Homo sapiens: one gene and its partners. The protein of the gene in region 4 purifies or fractionates together with the protein of the main gene of each other region. This does not show direct contact. Each region holds a gene or a part of one and is shown on either strand. Other genes may lie near its edges.

Evidence for each region. The genes of interacting proteins can lie anywhere in the genome.
Region 1: the proteins of HOXA4 (region 4) and ANKRD17 purify together in Homo sapiens (affinity purification with mass spectrometry; one large-scale study listed by BioGRID and IntAct). This does not show direct contact.
Region 2: the proteins of HOXA4 (region 4) and SIRT5 purify together in Homo sapiens (affinity purification with mass spectrometry; one large-scale study listed by BioGRID and IntAct). This does not show direct contact.
Region 3: the proteins of HOXA4 (region 4) and RABGAP1L purify together in Homo sapiens (affinity purification with mass spectrometry, with the first as the bait; one large-scale study listed by BioGRID). This does not show direct contact.

Annotation. Positions count from the first base shown.
Region 1 is NC_000004.12:73,073,799-73,077,298, forward strand, and holds part of ANKRD17 (ankyrin repeat domain-containing protein 17), read right to left. Parts: intron 3,307-3,500; coding exon 3,142-3,306; intron 2,493-3,141; coding exon 2,433-2,492; 3' UTR 1-2,432.
Region 2 is NC_000006.12:13,598,601-13,602,100, reverse strand, and holds part of SIRT5 (NAD-dependent protein deacylase sirtuin-5, mitochondrial), read right to left. Parts: intron 3,072-3,500; exon of another isoform or gene 3,070-3,071; coding exon 2,946-3,069; exon of another isoform or gene 2,460-2,945; intron 1,268-2,459; coding exon 1,152-1,267; intron 1,021-1,151; coding exon of another isoform or gene 981-1,020; exon of another isoform or gene 464-980; intron 1-463. UniProt on the Homo sapiens protein: NAD-dependent lysine demalonylase, desuccinylase and deglutarylase that specifically removes malonyl, succinyl and glutaryl groups on target proteins.
Region 3 is NC_000001.11:174,988,520-174,992,019, reverse strand, and holds part of RABGAP1L (rab GTPase-activating protein 1-like), read right to left. Parts: intron 3,380-3,500; coding exon 3,182-3,379; intron 2,172-3,181; coding exon 2,019-2,171; 3' UTR 1-2,018. UniProt on the Homo sapiens protein: GTP-hydrolysis activating protein (GAP) for small GTPase RAB22A, converting active RAB22A-GTP to the inactive form RAB22A-GDP. Plays a role in endocytosis and intracellular protein transport.
Region 4 is NC_000007.14:27,128,025-27,132,174, reverse strand, and holds HOXA4 (homeobox protein Hox-A4), read left to right. Parts: upstream 1-1,417; 5' UTR 1,418-1,441; coding exon 1,442-2,057; intron 2,058-2,603; coding exon 2,604-2,950; 3' UTR 2,951-3,650; downstream 3,651-4,150. UniProt on the Homo sapiens protein: Sequence-specific transcription factor which is part of a developmental regulatory system that provides cells with specific positional identities on the anterior-posterior axis.

The sequences.
Region 1 (3,500 bases), on a different chromosome or scaffold from region 4:
TGGTATAAACTGATTATACAATAATTGAGATATTAACTACTTGGGGATTTAAGGTGTGAACTAACCCAAGTGTAATGTCCAAGAGTTAAATCATTTCTTAAAACAATGATGTAGTCTGCATATACACATACCACATATTTTCAAAATTAAAAAATAAAAGACCTTCATGGTCTCAAAAAGTTATGGGTTTTTTTATTGTTCAAATAAAAGTGCACTGCATTACATCTGAAATATAAAAAATGTATTTTAAAAATGTTCCTAGTACAGACTTCTAAAACCATGGTATTGTACTAAACAAGCCTGATCCCCAAGACTAAATACGGAGCATTTCAATCTATATCCCCTGGCCCCACAGGTTTGAAGTCAAGAAAATATAGGAGTTTTCCCCCTCCTTTTTAAATAAAATACCTCACCTAAGAAATTCAGTATTGTGAAACAACACAACTCATGTGTTGTAATAAATATTGGATAGCATCTGTTCTCCAGCAGGATTACCTTAAATAGAAAATAACCCTAGTTAACACAGGAAAGAATTAAGAAAAAAAATTTTATGTATAGAATAGTGGCAAGTCATATATAAAATACTTCGTTAAATAACATTATTACATCCCTTTTTTAGTAAAGTGCTATAATTTTATTTCATAGCTATATTTATTTGTAGGCTGTCTTTTAGCTCTCCCTTTAAATTTGGGCATATTAAACATAGGTGGAAAAACAAATTTATATATTTTAAGACCACTTCTTAAACTAAAAGATATGAGTGTACTGTTTACAAATTTCTGGATATGTTTGAGAAGTCATCTTTTTACTCTTTACTCAGGCTTTACTCTTTACTCAGATGGAAGAAATCATTTGATTTACTTGACAACCAAGGAACCATGTTAATATCATCAACTCTAGGTGATTTATATGAATTTTAGTTAGTTTTTATGTTTTACCAGTGTGAAATTTTATGTCTAATTAAAAAAAAAGAAGACAAATTGATATATACATTACTCGATTTTTATGCTTACTTTCTTTTACATTTCAACCATATAATTAATTTTTCCATGAGACAGGGTAGGACACATAATCTTCTTGGATACATTACTGTTTATTGTTTCAAGTGGATGGAATATATAAATCCCACTGAGTAGTTTAGTGTGGCCTTGTATCTTTTATAAACAGGTTAAATGGAGACTTTACACTGTAATCTGTGTATTTATCTGTCTACCATAAATTGTCTTCGTGACAAATGCAGAATTTCTTTTATTACTTGGCTCAAATTAACTGTTGATCCTTTTCACTGATAATATACAAGGGTAAAAAAGCAGGAAGCCTTTAAAATTGAAAAAAGAAATAAGATATTTTCCACTAAATTACTGAAAATTGAAATTTTTATGTTGACTGTTGATGACTGAAAAGCCAATGTTAAGAATCAATATCATCCAATATAAAATAGTACATTGAATTATTTAATAAACAGAATATTAAGAGCTTGTATATGCTGACTGGGAACAGTGGTGGCTTTTTAAATTCTCAGAAAGTTTAAACATTTTATAATTAGAAGAAACCACTGGTGATGATGAAGATGGTCCATCTCTGTAGCAGCCATTACAGTGAAAATCTTGACAGAACCTTTTCACTATCAGAAAGATAATTTTACTGGTATTAGTGGTAAAGGTAAGGAGAGAAAAAGGAGTGAGGAGATAAGTCTGTATTAGTTTTAAAAGTGAGAAAAGGTAATAAAACAACATGGAAAAGCCAGAAATTTCTTCTTCTATATGTGCCTTGCTACAAATAAACCAAAAAGAAAGCAAGATGGGTATTTTAAAAGCCAATGTGGGGAAACATCCAATGATAATGCCCATTATTTTACTTTATACTTAAATTACACCAGTAGAAAAGTTATGCTTATTAATAGTTTAATGTATGAAGGAAACATCCAGATTTCTGAATATGAAGGTACATATCTCACATTAATTTAAGTCTACATAAAGTAGAGCCTCTATACTGACATATTGAAATTTACTTTCTGCTTAGCCTTTTCTGTTATGTAAACAATTGTACATTTATTTGCCATTCTAAAACTTCAGGATCAAGTTTACATAATTTTGCTAAATTTCCGTGTTTGCTCAGAAGCAGTTTACAGTACTAAAACCAACCAGCCAAAGAACAGCTTCAACAGAAAGTTATGTCCAAAGGGGAAGAGGGAAAGAAAAAAAGAAAAATGATAAGAAAAATGCTAACTAAGGTAAAACGGATGATGATGGGGAATGGGCAGTCACAAATGTTCACAGAAAATAGGTCAGTTAGTAAGATCTTCTGCAAAAAGCCTACACACTTCAGTCAAGCACATCAGTAGAATGATTTGGGAGCATAATTTTTTTTTTCGGCCACTTGTGATTTCCTCCAAATGAAAAGGAATCTGCAGGCTAACAAGCTGATCCTCATCAGCCAAGCTGGTTCATATGCACACTGTTCATGTGAGGTGCCCAGGGTCCAGTCCACACCTATGAATATAGAGCATGCATTTTACAAAATATATATCTAGCATATATTTTATTAAAATAAAACTTTTAAAAAACTAAGGAGGTACTCTTCAATTTGCAATATACTAGGAACTAATGGAAAAAAATGATAAAAACCTTTTTTCTATTATTTTCCTACCTCTTATCCCTCAAACAGAATCTGATTTACAACCTTTAAAAAAAAAATCATTACCTGAGCATTTATAGATTCACGGTTGTGGAAGAAAAATAAATCAAAGATATTAAACATACACTAAACTAAAATATACAACCATTTATGTGAATTCTCAGAGTTATTTATAGTACCTTTAATAAATAACCTTTAGATGGTCTTTTCACACCACTAGTAAACTTTAATGTATAAAATCATATGACAGTCACTTTGCAACTTAAAATCTTTCATTTATTATCTGCTACCCAGTAGAATATACAATACCTTTCATAATTTTAGCCCCAAACCTGCCTTTGGTACCACTGCCCACAGCCCTCTGCTATATTGCAGCTATATTAGATTTCCTCAACTGCCCATATTCACCAAACTCTCTTGCTATCATGAGTTACCTGAATCCTATTTGTCTTTGCATTTCTTAAACACAAAACAACTGTTTATTCACTGAATGATCAGCCTCACCGTTTGAGGGCCATTATTTTCCGTGGAGCTGGAAACCATCTTTATCAGTGAGTTCCAAGAAGGGTCTGCAGCATGAGGGCCATTAAATATGGGTCCTCCAGCACCATCAGGGATAGGTGCTACTGGAGGAATCATTGCATTCCCATACACAGAAAAAGGCATACCCTTAAAAAAGGAAAACACACACATTAACATCCAAGTCATTGTTCATTTTTCCCAATATAATCAATAGCCTTAAAATTGATATTTGAAAGTTCACCTCATCCTGGGAATGTGTAACTTATCTAAGAAATCTAAAAATTATTACCCATTATATAACTTATTTTAACATTAGATTATACATATGCCTACTATATTCA
Region 2 (3,500 bases), on a different chromosome or scaffold from region 4:
TTTAGGCCTTCCTTATTTCTTTCAATAATGTTCTGTAGTTTTCAGAGTATAAGTTTTGCATAGGAGGCAATTTTTTTTTAAGGCTATCTTCTTAGTTCCTACTACTCACACACAGATGAAGAACTATGGATCAAGAACACAGGCTGTAGCTGATCAAAAAGACACATGGAAAAGAAGAGGCTCAGAGCCAGTTCACTCACTTGAGGAGGGGCCTACTGAAGTGTCTGTGGCCCCTTTTCTTTCTTTTTTCTTTTTTTTTTTTAAATCCCAGCAAAGACTTAGAAGAGTGGTTCCTATCCTGGCTGCACACAGGAATCACCTAGGAAGCTTATCAAAATGATGATGTCTGGGCTGCAACTCAGAGCAATGACATCGAAATTTCATGAGGTGGCACCCAGGCATCAGTATTTTTAAAATATGCAGCCAAGGTTGGAAACTGTTGATTAAAGTAATGACAAGATGGTTCAATGAAGTTTTCTATTTTATTCATTTATATTAATTTACTACTTATTTATATTCTAACTTATTCAAAAGGAATTAACTAGATGGACAAGAATTAGAGGTAAAAGCAAAAAAAAGTTGGGGTGAGAAAAAAGACAGAACATGGATGAAGAAATAAAACAGACCCAGGAATAAGACTAAAAATGCATACTATGACAATCTACACTTCCCACCCAAACTTGGGAAGCAGGATCAGTGTCATAATATGGCCACAGATACAAATAACCTTGGCGATTAGACCAAAGGGGTATCTGCCAGGTGGCCTCCCAGTAAGAACGGCAGGTGATGAGGTTCTGCAAGGGCATCTCCCAGGCTTACTTGCGGAGCATTTGGGTAACCTACAACTACAGGTCATCACTAAGTCTAGCTTAAAAATGTAAGGGAAAGCAAAGCCTAAGGAATCCAAGAAGAGCGTTCAAAATGTGAACAAACAAAAGTCCCACGGCAAATTTCGCATACAATGACAGAGCTACCCTACCTTAGTCTACAGTGAATGATTTTGTTCTTCCATAAAAGCAACTGCAGATCAAACAAAAAAACACAAACCCTATGTCTTTTTTAAAAATTAGAGGAGTAGGTCAACTATGTTTAGATGACCATGTCTGTACCTGCCTCCCACATCTCCCTCTCCCATCAGGGTATCCCAGTACCTGAATCTGTTCGTAGCTGGGGTGGTCTCCGTGTTAAATTCAGCCACTGGCACGCCCCTGGCAGCCACCTGGGGGGCAAACATGGCTGCTGGGTACACCACAGAGGAAGTGCCCACCTACAAGGCAAGTACACGGAGATGAACAAACAGCCAGACGACAAGGAGAAGGAACATTATTTCAGAAAACCTTACACAAACTCAGGCAGGTCTGTGGTTGCAGGTGTGAGAAAAGCCAAACAGGATGGGATAAAACAGGGTGTCCAAGGGACAAGGGAAAGTGAAGAGGTGTCCTTTGATCAATCACTAGAATCGAGAAGAATATGTGACATGAAAAGGAGAGTTATGCAAAGAGTGACATAGAAGTGACTCAATCAACATGTTTTGGGGTTAATTCTGGTTTTGTTTCTGCTTTTTAAAGTTAAACAAATGATCCATAACTTTTTAAAACATATTTTCTATCTTTTTGTTTAAGGTAGAAAATACGAAGAAAAAAACATACATATCATCCATAATCTTACCGCAAGATAACCACTGTTAACATTTTCATGTATGTCCTCTTAGGTTTTCTCTTATAAATATTTGCTTATAAACATTCTTTACAGGGATGGGAAGAGCATGACCTGTTTTGTAAACCGGCTTTTCTCATTTAACAATCCATCATCAACAGTGGCACTATACTCAACACTGGGAAGCATTCTTTAAATACTGGCTGAATGAATACGCACCACAAGAAAGTGCCTCTGCTTTTAAAGACGTGTCAAGAAAAATTTGAAATACGCATACAATCTGTCCAATGAATCCCACTTTTAGGAAATGTGTCCTAAGGAAATCATTTGAAGAGCATGCTAAGATTTCTATCTAAGGATATTCACGATATCATTGATTAAACTATCAAAATTTGAAATAGCCCAAATGTCTTACAGTAGAGAATTAGCTAAATATATCATTCCTTATCCATATATAACACCATACAGTCAATTGAAAGATGATATTGATTTAGACATATTGATATGGAACATGCTAAGTGAACTGCTGCGTGAACAAAGTAGTTTCAAAACAGAACATATGTCATGAACTCAGTTTTGAATTTTAATTAATACGTGTACATCTGCATAAGAAAAGGTTTAGACCAGAGGTGGGCAAACTTATTCTGAAAATGACCATACAGTAAATTTTTCAGGCTTTGCAGGCCATTCAATCTCTGTCACAAGTACTCAACTCTGCCACTTGTAGTTTGAAAGTAGTCATAGACAGTGTGTGGAAGAATGAGTGTGGCTGAGTTCCAATAAAACTTTATTTCCAAAAACAGGTAGCAGGCCCAATGTGGCCCAAAGGCTGCTGTTTGCTCACTCCTGGGTCTAGAAGAAAACATACTAAACTGCTAACGGTAACTATTTCTGGATAGCAGAACTATGGGCGATTTCTAATTTCCTCTTTATAATGTGATAATTTTTGCATGTTCTCAATTAAATTTAATCATAAGCATGTATTATTTAAAAAACCAATAGCATGTTCTTTTCTTTGTTTTTGGTGGGGCTGGGGGAGGAGGCTTTGAGATGCCCAAGACATGCATGGTTTCCTATTTTAATACAAATTCTTATTCATTGTTTCTCAGTTTTTCTATAGGATACCACAAAGACCTCTCAACATACATTTGAAGGAAAGGAAGAAATGGAGGGAGGAGAGAAGGCGGGAAGGAAAGAAGCAAGGGAGGGAGGAAGGAAAAGAGGAGAGGGGGAAGGAAAAAATAACAAACTCCAGTCCTGTCCTGGGGTTAGGGAAGGGCATGACCCACCACTAGACATAAATCACAGTGGGCGAGCTCTCTGTCAACCTCCTCCAGAATGGCAGGATCCAGGTTTTCTCCAAACCACACGACGTGAGGTCGCAGCAAGCCCCCGCAGCCTGCCTCTTCACACCTGGAAGAATGGGATCCTTAAGCCAACCCCGAGCCAAGTCTGCCCAGCTGGATCGGAGGGAGGCCAGGGGCTGCCCCAAACCTAGTACATCCAGATGGGTCACCTCTGATGCCTCTTATTCCCTACACCCTCCCTCCCAGCCTATATAAACTTGCCTTGCTTATGAAGCATCAGGTTTAATGGTCTTTTTTTTTTTTTTTTTTTTTGAGACGGAGTCTCACTCTGCTGCCCAGGCGGAAGTGCAATGCCATGGTCTCCGCTCACTGCAACCTCTGCCTCCCAGGTTCAAGCAATTCTGCCTCAGCCTCCCGAGCAGCTGGGACTACAGTCATGTGTGACCACACCCAGCTAATTTTCGTATTCTTAGTAGAGACATGTTTCACCACATTCGCCGGGCTGGTCTCAAACTGCTGACCTCAGGTGATCTGCCC
Region 3 (3,500 bases), on a different chromosome or scaffold from region 4:
GCATTCTGTGGAATGTACTTATTTTTGTAAATTGAAACAAGCTCTGTACAGAACTATGAAATTCACAACACAAAAGAGCATCTTTAATTTAGCTGGCCATTTGATAAGGCAACTGCACAAGGCTTCTTGGAATCAAAGCGTAAAGTACCAGTAAAGCTAACAGCCTATACTAAATGATTTACAAAAACAAGCGCCAAGATAACATTTTCTAGCTATTACATTTTACAAAAAAAAAAAAAAAAAAATTAGCTTATCTAGACCACCATGTAGAGAATGTTAAAGCCAACACAGACACTTGGAATGCTGGGTTATGTTCCTTTTTGTTAAGAAAATAAATTTTGTAATGAAAGATGTCAGAACAACAATGAAAGATTTATGTAAGAAAAGTATTATCTGATGAGTATAACATAACAATCACATCAGTTTTATGGGCTGTAGAGAATATAAACACAGATAAAGGGGATTTCACTTTTTAGAACATAAAAGATCATTTTAGAGGAAAAGATCCACTGTGAGCAACTTGGTGCATCCTCCTGGGATGTAGATGGCTCTTATTTGATTCTTCTAAGGGTGTGTTACTTTTAATTGCAAAATATGGCACAGATGAGAATCATTCTGGCACTACAGAGTTTAAGATTCTTTGCAAATAATATGTTCAACAATGAGGCCAATGATTAATATCAACAAATGTTATTGTACATATCTAATAGTAGTTTGGTTGGTTTGAAAGGATCAGAGGCCTCCAAAATAGTTTATAAAATAAAAATAGTTTTGCTCTTATCAAATAATTTCCTGCAAGGACTATTTTTATAGGCATGTTAAATATAATTGAAAAAATATTTCCACTAATTTTTAAACAATAGCTTTACCTTTCCATGAGATAAGTATTTCTGTAAAGGTTTTATATTCAATCAAAAATGTTACAAATGCATTTGTATCTCTTTATGGGTACGAAGGACACATTTTCAGGGAACTACAGAAATCAGAAAAAGTTGCCCAGCATTAAACTAAGATGATGTGAGCCTGACCTCTATTTCCCATTTCAATACTATGTCCTTTAACAAAGTTACAGTATTGTTAGTGTTTCCTTAGCAAGTATATATCAACGTTAAATGAAATACTCTGTCCCTGGTTCTATATTCCACTCTATTCAGCACAATGGCTGAACCTGGGGCTTTTTAGGCGTCTCTGGTAAAGGCTCCCTAAGTCTGTAAGGTGCAATATCCACCTTTAACTTTATAATTGCCAGAAGTCACATCTGTGTCCATACTTTGGTGTACTTAGGAACTCACAAGTCCTATGTGGCATTCTTAAAAGGATCTGTTAGAATACCACAGCCCAAATGATCCTGACCTACACTTATTAAAATTTCAGTTCCTTTTACCTAGCGTATAATCTGAACAGCCCGTCTATTCCTGGCACTTCATTTCCAGATGTACCGAACAGAAAATGAAAGTAAACCAATGATCGCTGATTGGTTCTTTCCTTTGGACAGGATTAACACTTCCCTGGGAATCAGGCTCAGGAGGAAACCTGAGAGTGGTCATGCCTGGCCCCACAGTGTGCTTTATCTGAATAAATCCTGAAAACTTAAGATGTTTAGGTTTCAATTTTTTTTTTCCTGTGACAAAGATCTTCTTATCACTTCAACCTTGGAATAACAGATGTCTCCATTTTTATGTAAGATAAAAATAATTATGAATAATTCTAAATAAAAAAGCATTTAGTTCTGAATTACTTATTTCCAACTAAACATCAGGCAAACAAAATAATGTGTAATACTATGATGGATCTGAACATGGCCTTCCAGAAGCTGGAAAATAGGTATTCAACATAGAACAGGTCAGTTTAAATAGCATCCCTTTGAAAAGTGTCATACAAGAAAGAGTGAGAGCTACTGAAAAATTCTGGCTTGTTTTCTGGCCTCCTTGACTTTCCTTCAAAGGGACACCAGGAAGAATCCTCCCAGATTTCCATTGGTTTGAACATTGTGCTCTTGTGCTTGGGTAAGGCTGGAACTATGTGCTCTCCTTGGGTGGCTGGGTGACCGGTGCTGGCTGCAATGGCTGGGTGCCCGTGGCCGTTTTGATAGAGTTCAGGGTTTTGCTAAACCAAGAGTTTTTCGCAGCTTGGATTTCATTCATAAGGGCTCCTCTCTGATGTTCAAGTTCCTAATTAAAGCAAGAAAATCATCTGAGTTAAATAAATGTTTTCTCTTTGCCAATAAATAAATAAAAGTGTGCAGCTTTTTGGAGTCTCAAGGTATGTGCTGCCAATTTTCCTCCCACAAAACCCAGGAGAGATTGAATTGGCTTCTTAGTACAAGGATAAAGTTAAGAGCTAAAAGACTTATCAAAAATCTAGAATCTGTGCTTTCTTTAAACAGTGAAAGAAAAGCTCATTTTATTCTTTTTTTCCCTGCAAGTTAGGTCCAAATTTAGGTTTAGGTTGCAATCCGATATAACAGGTTTAAAAACCACAAATAAATGTAAACATATGGATGAATTTTTACTGATAGTAGAAGCATGAATGAATTCCAGTTCCAAAGAAATAGGCTTTGCCCTAAGAATGTCCAAGGTCAGAGCAGACACATGGTGGAAGCTGGCTGGTGTGGTGGAGGCTGGTGACATGGCAGCCATGGTGCTGGTAGGGATCACTGGGAAAATGAAATGAAGAAGAGTCCATCAGAAGCCAGGACTATTTCTAATTATATTATGCGCCAATATGGAGAAAGATAATGGGGAAAGAGGTTTGACAAAATGAGCTAAAGATAAAAAGAAGCTCTAAAGGAAAGAACGGGTGTCAGCCAATGTGTGACTCTCAGGGTAGACACAGCAGAGGGGGTTTGGTTTTTCATTTTCAGGATCAGCCACTGAAGTGACCACATTCTGTGAGAAAGGATGTAAGCAAAAAATCTCAGGGTAAAAAAAACAAGCATATGCTTAATTAAATTCCCATAAGATATAATTTTAATTATTAAAATTTCATTTAAAATTATATATTTGTTTATATCAGCGTTAAGAATACATGATATAAAATGTGATTATGCAGGACACATTAGCAGACAGAAAATGTATTCATCATACAATTCTGACCTAGATAGGTGTATTCTGAAGTACTAGAGTATCCTGGACCATTAATTGTTTATTCTTTCTTCTTGTTCTTTTATCAAATCACCAACCTGAATTTTACACTTGGCCTCCACCAACTGCAGTTTGGTTTGTGCCAGTTCCAGTTCCATCTCTCTCAGCTGCTTCTTAAGTGAGTCCTTCTCATCATCTGTTTCAATTCCCTGGTCCTCTCTGCCTGTGGCTGCTAGTTTCAAAGCACCCTCCTTGCTGAAAATGTCACTGCAGTGTTTGCATGCCATCATCTTACCCTAAAGTATCCAAAAGAGATAACCAACATCAAACTATTCCATAGGCTAAATCACCTTCTGAAACAATTTATGACTTTTTTAGATGCTGCTTATTGTCATAGATGCAGGCCCATTTCTGAAG
Region 4 (4,150 bases):
TGGTGACTATGCTAGTTTACACTGCTTTAATTTAGGCTGAAAAGTAGAGGATCTAGATATGTCTACTACTCAGAAAAGAAAGGGAGAAAGCACACAGCACAAATAAGGCATCAGTATTTACTTCAAAGATCAACATTAGGTGGAATTAATAAGTAATTTATTTGTTAATAATGGCGTAATTAGTGTACCCATCAAATTTCAATTACCAAATAGCAGGCAACAGTCTCCTCTCCCTCCTTTCCGGAGCTTCTGATATCGTTAATACGCTAATTTTCAGCAATTCAGAAATTATAGACTGTCCTGCAAATATAACTCTAGCCTCAGATACTGCCTGAGAAAGCAGGATCTAAAAGAGAAAACATGAAATTCTTAGCTGGAAAAGACCCATCAGCGATCAGACCCGGCAAGGTGTTTATTCTACCCTTAGCTTGTTTTTGTTTGGGGATAGTTCTGAAATAGGAAGTTATTGTTTTCAAAGCTCGGTTCTGTGGAGGTGTTGCTTCTATCCATTCCCATCCTTGGGCCACCTTCTCTCTCACAATCGCACCTAGTAAATGCGGGCATATTTAGCTCTCACATCGACAACCCCCGTCAAATTAGATGCTATTACGAAGGTTCCAATTTTTCTTAGGAAAACACGAAACAGATTGTCTCTGAAAGAAGGAAAAAATGAAAAGTGTCCATCCAGTTATAATGGAATGGCCTCGATTTACATCCTTGGGTCGATTTCTCTTAGCTGCCCGCCCACCCTTTGCAGCTTCTGCCAAGCTTCTCAAAGCAAGGGCTCTCAGGCTGACACGCAAGGAGCAGGGTGTGGGGAAGGGGGATCTGCGGTTGAGAAAATGTGTCTGGTGGCCTCTCAGTGGCGTACATAAAAACCAGGATGCCCCTCGGTCCCAACGCCCTTCCTTTCGCCTGTTAGCCTAGAACCCCTGAAGGACACGAAGCCTGACTGGGTTGCGCCCGAGGTCAGCGCTGAGTCGCGGCCGCCAGACAGCCCGAGGCCTAGGCCAGCAGTAGGGCAGGCAGAGGGCTCCCGAGAGGACCTACAGCCTGACAGGGCCTGAATTCCCAGCGGGAACCAAAGCTGGGGGGCTGGGGTCCAAAGCTCCTGCTCCCTCCCCCAGCCCAGGGGCCGGACAGCAGCATCCATCACGCACCCGCGCGTTTCCTGATCCGGGTCCGCGCGCGCGGTGCGCCCATTGGTGGGGGCGCTGCACGTGGGGCACGGGGCGGGGCGCGCGCTGGGCTGGGGAGGAGCGGCTCGAACTTTGGTGGCGGCGTCTGCGGGAGGGGGAGGAGTGGGCACTTGACAGCGGGGGGAGGGGAAGGGCGCAGAGGAAAGGGGGATGGGAAGCGAGGCAGGAGGGGGAGGGGCCTCGGCAAGCCCAGAAAAAACGACAACGCGAGAAAAATTAGTATTTTTGCACTTCACAAATTAATGACCATGAGCTCGTTTTTGATAAACTCCAACTACATCGAGCCCAAGTTCCCTCCCTTCGAGGAGTACGCGCAGCACAGCGGCTCGGGCGGCGCAGACGGCGGCCCGGGCGGGGGCCCCGGCTACCAGCAGCCCCCAGCGCCCCCGACCCAGCACCTGCCGCTGCAGCAGCCCCAGCTCCCTCACGCGGGCGGCGGCCGAGAGCCCACTGCCTCCTACTACGCGCCGCGGACCGCCCGCGAGCCCGCCTACCCTGCTGCCGCGCTGTACCCCGCGCATGGGGCCGCGGACACCGCCTACCCCTATGGCTACCGCGGCGGCGCCAGCCCCGGGCGGCCGCCCCAGCCCGAGCAGCCCCCGGCGCAAGCCAAGGGCCCAGCGCACGGCCTGCATGCGAGCCACGTCCTGCAGCCCCAGCTGCCGCCGCCCCTGCAGCCTCGCGCCGTGCCCCCAGCGGCCCCGCGGCGCTGCGAGGCGGCCCCCGCCACCCCAGGCGTCCCGGCAGGGGGCAGCGCCCCCGCGTGCCCGCTGCTCTTGGCCGACAAGAGCCCGCTGGGCCTGAAGGGCAAGGAGCCCGTGGTGTACCCCTGGATGAAGAAGATCCATGTCAGCGCCGGTACGTGGCGCCGCTTGGGAGGCGCGGGAGGTGGGCCGGGGCTGGGCCTGGGTTCGAGGGTCGGGGTCAGGAGGGAGAGGCTCAGGGGAAGGGGGCCTCGGGAGGGGAGCCCCCATCTGACCCGGGCTGCGGTGAGATGTGGGTATGTGCGCGCCAGCCAGCCGCCTGATCCCAACATGAGAACCCTTTTGTACCCAGGGTCCCTTTATCAGGAGATTTACGAGACGCCAAACTGTTAGGGCAGTAATTATAGCCCCCATAAATTTAATTGCCCTGGCAGAGGCTTCAGGCCATGTGTCTTTGAAGCTTTTCTTCAGCCCCAATGCCCAGCACCATTCTTTATGGCTCTCGGGTGTTTCCCGTTGTCAATAGCCTGTGAAACATTTTCTTTGCCGTTTTATGTATCTTGCGTGAACTTGGTGTCAGGTTATTATATAATGATGATGTCCAATTGCTCTTCCCCACCCCACCTTCTCTCTCCTCCTCCTTTCCCTCTCTTCCGCTCCCTCCTCCTTGGCCTTCTATTTCGGGGTTCTGGGTTTTCAGTTAACCCCAGTTATAACGGAGGGGAGCCTAAGCGCTCTCGAACCGCCTACACCCGGCAGCAGGTCTTGGAGCTGGAGAAGGAGTTCCACTTCAATCGATACCTGACCCGGCGGCGCCGCATCGAGATCGCCCACACGCTCTGTTTGTCTGAGCGCCAGGTCAAGATCTGGTTTCAGAACCGGAGGATGAAGTGGAAGAAAGACCACAAACTGCCCAACACCAAGATGCGATCCTCCAATTCGGCCTCGGCCTCTGCCGGCCCACCAGGGAAAGCACAAACTCAGAGCCCACACCTCCATCCCCACCCCCACCCGAGCACCTCCACACCCGTTCCCTCCTCCATATAATCTTCTAGAGATCTTAACCAGTTTCTATCCCTTACCTGCTTTTCTCTTCTCTTCTCCTGCTCCGTTCCTCATCCACCCCTCCCCATCTGGACCATAATAGACACCAAAACAAACCCAAATTGGTGAAAAGAATAATCAAAAAGAAGACATTATCCGGTTAAGAGTCTGTGCTGGTTGCCACCCAAGAGAGAACAGTTGTCCAGGATGCTGGCTGGTGGAACAACCTGCTGGCCCGAAACAAGGCTGCCAGGTGTGGATACCTGAGAAGGACTACTTGGTATCAAATACTTTTGAGATGGCTACAGTCAGCTAGCTGGACAGCCCATGCTGAGTGGGGACATACACTTGCATCTTTGTTGAAAGCAGAAGAAGACAGACCCTTTCCCCACCTTCCTTACCTCCTCTTCCCCCATTAAGGCAGCTCATCCAAGCTTGTATTTAACTGAATAAATGAGTAGACATTGTGGACCTCACAAGATTATTTAATTCTTAAGATGTGTAGACCTTGATGGTAGGTGTGACATGTTAGTTTTTCTTACTTGCATTTATTTAAGACACTGTTACAGAGATACTGTTGTCCCCTTCTGGGGCACGGTCTTTGGGGAGAGGGGAGTGCATTTAGACTTATGTGGAACTGTACAAATTGTGATGTGGCTACATAGAAAGCCATGTGCTAAGAATAAACTCCATTTAAAAAACATTAAAAATCTAAGATTCATGTGTTTTCTAAGCTTTTCATTAAGAAAACAAAAGTCCTCTGGATTGAGATACTTGACCTTGCATGTAAAAACCTTGTAGATAGCTTGAGCTGGATTCACTTGGATTCTGACGGCTCACATAATTTGTGTGTGAGAGTGTGTGTATGTATGTTCAACTTGAGCTGAACTCTTGTCAAGCTTGGCCTACTGTGGAAAAGTTCCAAAGAGTAGGAAGGCTCTTGAGCTCTGAGAGGGCTCCTCTTCTTCCCAAACTTGGCCAGGCTTTCAGGCTTCAAGTCTCTGTAAGGCATAGAAACGTGTCCTTCCCTGCAATGAAAGTTGAAACCATGCAGTGCTGTGGGCCCAGGAGTTTCTGCAGCTGTTCTACACACTGAACTCTGAGCACACTTGGAAAGAAGTGGTCTCTTTGGTATTTGGTATTTGTTGCACCTTCACACTTAATCTGCCTGTTTCCCAGGAGATAAAAAATAGTTTGTGCAAA